2 linked regions of the Homo sapiens genome follow. The protein of the gene in region 1 purifies or fractionates together with the protein of each later gene. This does not show direct contact. Each region holds a gene or a part of one and is shown on either strand. Other genes may lie near its edges.

The links.
Region 2: the proteins of MYL1 (region 1) and NUP107 fractionate together in Homo sapiens (co-fractionation; one large-scale study listed by BioGRID). This does not show direct contact.

Annotation. Positions count from the first base shown.
Region 1 is NC_000002.12:210,298,164-210,301,821, reverse strand, and holds part of MYL1 (myosin light chain 1/3, skeletal muscle isoform), read left to right. Parts: intron 1-3,258; coding exon 3,259-3,402; intron 3,403-3,658. UniProt on the Homo sapiens protein: Non-regulatory myosin light chain required for proper formation and/or maintenance of myofibers, and thus appropriate muscle function.
Region 2 is NC_000012.12:68,735,353-68,739,010, forward strand, and holds part of NUP107 (nuclear pore complex protein Nup107), read left to right. Parts: intron 1-3,658. UniProt on the Homo sapiens protein: Plays a role in the nuclear pore complex (NPC) assembly and/or maintenance. Required for the assembly of peripheral proteins into the NPC. May anchor NUP62 to the NPC. Involved in nephrogenesis.

The DNA of each region.
Region 1 (3,658 bases):
AAAACAATTACTAGCTAGGAGACTCCAAACTCTTAAGATTCAAGAGAATCTGAATAGTTTCCCTAAAAAGTCAACCTTTTCACCTTTGGGTCTTTGGATCCAACAGATCCCATACTCCACAGGAGCTTGATGTTTTCATTAGCAAGTGCAGGGAGGAATGTTTTATGGAGTGAAAGAGTCACATATCTAAGTGAACTGAGACACAAATAAACCTATAGATGGAAGGAGGAGAAAAAATTAGCTTCAAAATATTGTATAAATTAGAATATTGGTCATAAGTAGTATGTCTATATTACATATATTAGATATGAAAATATAAATAATTATAATTATAGGTGATTAATAAGAACCTATTCAAATACTCAGTTCTCTACCTAAAGGATTCCACATTCTTCAAGTCTATTTCTGCATCTGAAATAGTTCATATTTGAACATAAATTGAGAAAAAGGGATATTTACTGTAGTACAGACTCACATGCATCTGTATCATGGTTGATGGCCTCATGTAGACAGATTAGATGATATGGTGACCCATAACTCAAGATTATTTGAAATTATACTATGAAGGACTTTTTTCTCATTGAAAACAGTTGGTGATTCTACCATAATTTGTTTGATTTTTAATGCATTTTAACTAGTGATGCTGCTACATTGTCACCTACTGCATCCCAGTCCTCTCAAATAGCTAATTTACAATTGTTGTGACAAAACTATTGTAGGATCAAGCAATGGAAGACTTAAAAACCCTTGCAAGGACTCAATGATTTAACGTTGAGCATTAAACCTTTTATTCCATCTGTGAAATAGATTTTAGACACAGAAGTTCAGCAAACATGGGTGTAGTATACTGTTTTCTTTGTGGCAGGAAAACAAATGTAAGCATTTTAAATTATGTGGAAAAACTATAGTTTCTTAAATGAAAGCATTCTTTAGTTTGTTTCCTTGTTTAGTGGTTAAAGAATTTTGTTCATGGCTGCTCTATTGGAATCTATCACAGGATTGAAGGAAAGGGTGCAAAAACTGGAAAATGACAACATTCTAAAGGTCTAAGTCTTGTGCTCTCCAGTAGACACTAGCCACATGTGGCTATTTAAACTTTAATTAATTAAAAATAAAATTTAAAATCCATTTTCCTCACTTGCACTAGTCACATTTTAGTGTTCAAGAGCAACAGTTAATAGCCACCTTTTTGGGCAGCCCAGAATGACAACAATTCCATTATTACCAAAAAGTTCTAGAACAATACTGTTATAGACCAGAAGTTAGCGAACTTTTTCTTAAAAGGCCAAATAGTAAATACGTTAGGCTTTGCTGCCAGTATAGACTCTGTAAAAACAACTCCACTCTGTCACTGAGGTGTGAAGAAAGCCATAGACAATTCATAAAAGAATGGGAATGGCTGTATCCGAATCAAATTTTATTAAAAAGAAACAGGCAACCAGCCCCTGGAAAATAGTATAACCAGCCCTGGTATTAATTCTTCAAGAGAATAACTAAACTTTGGGTTAAAAATCTGGGGTAATAAAATAGTGTCTTTCTGGTCTCTGCCTTTAAATCACCAAAAGTGTTAATGTCACAGTGATTCTATTACAGCCCATAAAATCCTATTTCTACTTCGGCATCTGACCAGGGTAATAGTGAGCCTGCTGAGCAGTCTGTCCATGAAAGCCTGAAGCCAGTAACAAGAATAGTTCAGTTTCACATGTCCCTTAGAAAGATGAAAAATAATATTTGACTAATGACTTCTCAGTGCCTGCAGCAAGTTTTTTAGCTTAGGGAATTGATCTGTAGTCAAATTGCATAGAATTCGAGGGGGAAGTTTTAACAAATAATGGTAACATGATCTGTAGTGAATTGTGAATATAATGTCAGTGCGATGTTAGATTAGGGGAGGGAGGAATAGCAAGATGGAATACTTTGCTGAGTAATCTATCTAGACAGCACCTTTTGATCTGAAACCACTGATAGCCTAAAAAAATGCTTTCACTTCTACCAATTTATTCACAAATGATTTTTTGAGTATTGTTGATATTAACTGGAAGTCATCAGCAGTACTTTTGGGTTTCCCAGAAAATGTAATCTAGTTTATAAGTTCTAATTAAAATGGTTGTACTGGCCCCCAGATCCACCAAAGACACCCTTTCTGTCTTTGATATACATTTCTAAATTTTTTGTCACTATAATTTTGAAAGTCAAACCAGTTCTATCAAAAGAGAATGATTAAATTTAGAGAAAGTCATCAATACAATGATTATAATTAGAATAGAGAACACTTTAAAATATGTATTCATAAAAGAATGGGAATGGCTGTGTATACTTAATACATACACGTACACACAATGAATCGAGCAAACTGGGAAAATGTGACTAAAATTGATGGCGTCTACCAATGTGAATATCTTGGTTATGATAATATAATTTTGCAAAATGTTACTACTGGAAGATACCGGGCAGAGCATACAAGAGATCTTTCTGTATCATTTCTTAGAACTGCATGTGAATCTACAATTTTCTCCATAAAATTGTAATTACAAGGCATAGCGAAATTCTAAAGCTGATATAGCAACATATGTCATATGTATTATTTGATAAAAGGGTAAAGTATAAAGAGATTATCACAGCAACATACCAAAACAAATATTTCTCCTTCTGAACTGATTATACGAGGAGCCTAATAGAGTCACACATTAGTTAATAAACTATAGAATGTATAGATTTGTCTCACCTTTCTAAATTTTTCCTGAAAAATAAAGTTATTCCTGGAGAAAGCTGGTTAAAGGGATAACCTAGGAAATTTGTACCCAAGAGGAGGTTTTTCTACATAATTTGAAAAGTTTGAGTTAACCTCACATACCATGAGCCTGATTGAAAATTTGTTCTTTCTGAAATTTTGTTAATCTTGTTAATTATATGAGAGATTATTAAAGTTTCTCAAGGCCTTAGAATTTTTTAACCCAATCCAGGTTTCCAGGCAGGTAAAGGAAATATGAATATGACTAGGAGCTCCAATTTCCATATCTGATTAACAATAACAGGCAACTTAAAGTTGGAAATGCTGTTTTAAAATAACCCTGAAAAGAAATGCTAAGTTTTTGCCAATGATATTTGGAGATACAAAAAGAGAATCCAGGATAACAACTTGCATAGTTGGCAGAAGTTGTAAAACTGAAGAGTTTGAACTGAATTTTTGATAAGGTTAGGTTTAATTAATAGGTTAGAGGAAGAAAAGAGCACTCTAATGCTTCTTGCTTTTTGCAGAATTCAAGGAGGCATTTCTCCTGTTTGACAGAACAGGTGATTCCAAGATCACCTTAAGCCAGGTCGGTGATGTCCTTCGAGCTCTGGGCACAAATCCCACCAATGCAGAGGTCAGGAAAGTTCTGGGAAACCCCAGCAATGAAGGTAACCCATCAATTTTTCCAAGAAGTGTGGAAGTATAGGGAAGTGTGTAGCAGTGTGTGTGTGTGTGTGTGTGTGTGTGTAGTATGTGTGTGTGTGTAGTATGTGTGTGTGTGAGAGAGAGAAAGATTGATTTAAAAATGTTTCACATAATAGGGCTCAGTTTATTCTTGATTGTGGTAAGTGTGCCTCTTGGCCATAGAAAGTCTCAGCTTTTTGCTTTATAAAATAAGTTAAACTTCCTTTGAGAATTTGCAAG
Region 2 (3,658 bases), on another chromosome or scaffold:
TGTGCATTGTTTATAGCCAAAAACCAAAACACTCACCATGTTCTTTTTTAAAAATATTCTGTCTCTAAATGGGAGCATCTACAGATTTTACATAATTGTAGATATAGCTAAATCCCATGTTTTAAGCTAAACTGAAAATACTACCTAGGGAATGGGAATATTTGATTCTTGGATAAACTATTAGTTCACATTTACTATGTTCACAGAGGATACAAAAATCTAATTTTTAAAAAATTCTGGACCTAAAAATTTAATTATACATGTATGTCACTCCATTTACAGATATAAAGATAACTCGAGTAGTATCAGTAAGGCATAGCTAAGGTAGGGGCTCTCACCTCTGGGCTGTCCATTTTAATGACCTGGCAGACTTTTTAAAAACACTACAGGGTTCCACTCCCAGAGATTATGGTGTAATTGGTCTGAGGTAGGGCTGGGGTTTATTTTTGTTTTTTTAATCACTTGCAGTGCTTTAATATAATATATAGCCTGTGTTGAGAACCAGCTACAGAAGTATCAAGTGCCATAAGAAAGGCACAGGTTAAGTATTTTCTGAGTCCAGGAAAAGAAAAGATTGTTTTCACCTGAAAGGGAACTGGAACGTATGCTTGAAATGTATAGCATTTGACTGAATCTTGAACATACTGGTAGAATTTGGATGAGCTGAGATGGGAGAAAGGAAGGATACTGAGATAATAGTCATATAAGGGAAAGACATTGCAGCCTGACCCTGGTGCATGACAGAAACAGTGAGTAGCTTAGTTTATCCTCTGTAGACCTGAGGAGCTGTCTGAGAGCTGGAAATACTGGCTTCTTGGATATTTGATGTGTTATTTTGAACAAAGAAAACAGTAAGTGTTCTTGGTATCTTTCCTTTTGCCATTCTTCATACCCTCATCTATTTAGTACTTTTTCTTTAATTTTAGCTATTGCATTTTTTTTTTAGCCTGTCTTCTCTGACCAGAAGGAGGAAAAAGAATACAGGCAGGACAGCGAACTAAATTTGAGCCCCTATTTGCCACTATTACTGATGGAGTAATTATCTTAAATGTCTCCACTTTATTTTTTCTTTTTTTGTTTTAGAGACAAGGTCTTGCTCTATCACCCAGGCTGGAGGACAGTGGCTTCATCATAGCTCACTGCAGCCTCAAACTTCTGGGCTCAAGCAGTCCTTCTGCCTCAGCCTCCCCAGTAGCTAGGACAACAAGCACACACCACCATGCCTGGCTTTTTTGTTTGTTTGTTTTTGACACAGGATCTTGCTGTGTTGCCCAAGCTGGTCTTGAACTTCTAGCCTCAAGCTGTCCTCCCACCTTGGCCTCCTGAAGTGCTGCGATTACAGGCATGAGTCAATGTGTCGCCACCTTTTTTTTTTTTTTTTTTTTTTGAGAAAGAGTTTTGCTCTTGTCGCCCAGGCTGGAGTGCAATGGCACAATCTTGGCTCGCCTCCCAGATCCTCTTGCCTCAGCCTCCCAAGTAGCTGGGATTACAGGCATCCACCACCACACCCAGCTAATTTTTGTATTTTTAGTAGAGATGGGATCTCACCATGTTGGCCAGGCTGGTCTCGAACTCCTGACCTCAGGTGACCCACCTGCCTTGGCCTCCCAAAGTGCCTGAGATTACAGGCGTGAGCCACTGCGCCCAGCCAAGTCTCCACTTTTTATCCTAACGTTCGTAATAGAACTCCTTTGACTCGTTTTAAACCTTCCACAGGTTCCTCTGGCAAAACCTTTCTCATCTGATTCATGCTGATTCTCTTGAAGATAAAATTTTAATGTTGTAAAATGCTAATTAAGTGTCACTTAAATTTTGAAAAGACTTCAATGCTTTATTTATACATACATCTTTGCTATTCTAATTATTAATTAAGTAGATTAGGTAGTGAAAGCCACAAAATAGTCTTGGGATCTCATAAAATTAGAGTTGAGGCCAAGCGTGGTGGCTCACGCCTGTACTCCTAGCACTTTGAGAGGCTGAGGTGGGTGGATCACCTGAGGTCAGGAGCTTGAGACCAGCCTGGACAACATGGGGAAACCCCGTTTCTACTAAAAATACAAAAAAATTAGCCTGGTGTGGTGGTGCATGCCTGTAGTCCCAGCTACTAGTGAGGCAGGAGAATGGCCTGAACCCAGGAGGCAGAGGTTGCAGTGAGCCGAGATCGTGCCACTGCACTTCAGCCTAGGTGACAGAGTGAGACCCTGTCTCAAAAAAAAAAAAAAAAAAAAAATGGAGTTGAGATGGAAGGCAATGAATGATACACCATTTTGTTTCATCAGGGATTTTAAAATCAATATTCAGTCTCAATTATTTCTTTAAAACTTCAGTCTCAATTATTTCTTTAAAACTAATCCAGAAAAGAGATTTCTTGAACAGTTAAATGATTAATAACATTTTAATCACCTTTGTTGAGCCTAATACTCTTACATAGTCAATGACGTAGGGCATTGTTCAAGGCCCCTGCTAACACGTGTCACTTGTATGTGAATTAGAAAATTGTAATTCTATCTGGGAACGGTGGCTCATCCCTATAATCCCAGCACTTTTGGGAGGCCGAGGAGGGCAGATCACGTGAGGCCAGGAATTCGAGACCAGCCTGGCCAATATGGTGAAACTCCGTCTCTACTAAAAATACAAAAAATTGGCCGGGCACGGTGGCTCACGCCTGAATCCCAGCACTTTGGGAGGCCAAGGCTGGTGGATCAGAAGATCAGGAGATCAAGATCATCCTGGCCAATATGGTGAAACCCTGTCTCTACTAAAAATACAGAAAACTAGCCAGGCATGGTGGCACGTGCCTGTAGTCCCAGCTACTTGGGAGGCTGAGGCAGAAGAATCACTTGAACCTGGGAGGCGGAGGTTGCAGTGAGCCGAGATTGCGCCACTGCACTCCAGCCTGGCAACAGAGCGAGACTCTGTCTCAAAAATAAAAATAAAAATACAAAAAATTAGCCGGGTGTGGTGGCTCGCGCCTGTAATCCCAGCTACTAGGGAGGTGGAGGCAGGAGAATCGATTGAACCCAGGGAGGCGGAGGTTTCAGTGAGCCAAGATTGCGCCACTGCACTCCAGCCTGGGCAACAAAGGGAGACTCCGTCTCAAAAAAAAAAAAAAAAAATTGGAATTCCCTTCCCTTACATAGATAGGTTCCATGGCAAGTGCACACAATATGTAAGACAGAACACAGGCTAGATTTCAGCCCCACTTACTTGCTTGGCCAGCCACCCTTGTACAAGGCACGGCTGTACACAATAGCCCTAGCATTATGTGCTGTTTTCGTATAGCTACCCCTCAAGTTTTTAAATAACTGGAATAGTCCCCTTAGTGTTGGGGCTGGTGGCACAGAGGAATGGCAGAGAGAATGGAGCAGGCAGGTCATCTTTACCTACCTTTCACTACCTCTACCTCTAGCACATTCTAGTCCAAGCCTCTACTGTCTTCCGTGGCTTCTCACTGTTCTTTATACAATCGTTCCTTATACAGATGGACTAGTGACCCTTTCAGAATAAAATACATGCGACTGTCTTACCCAGAACTTTCTGATGCCTTCTTATTGCACTTGGAATAAAATCTTTCTTTTCTTGATGTACAAGAGTATACATACTTTTGTTTTGTTCTTTTTTTTTTAAACTAACCCCCTAATCTTGTGTCCTACTGCTC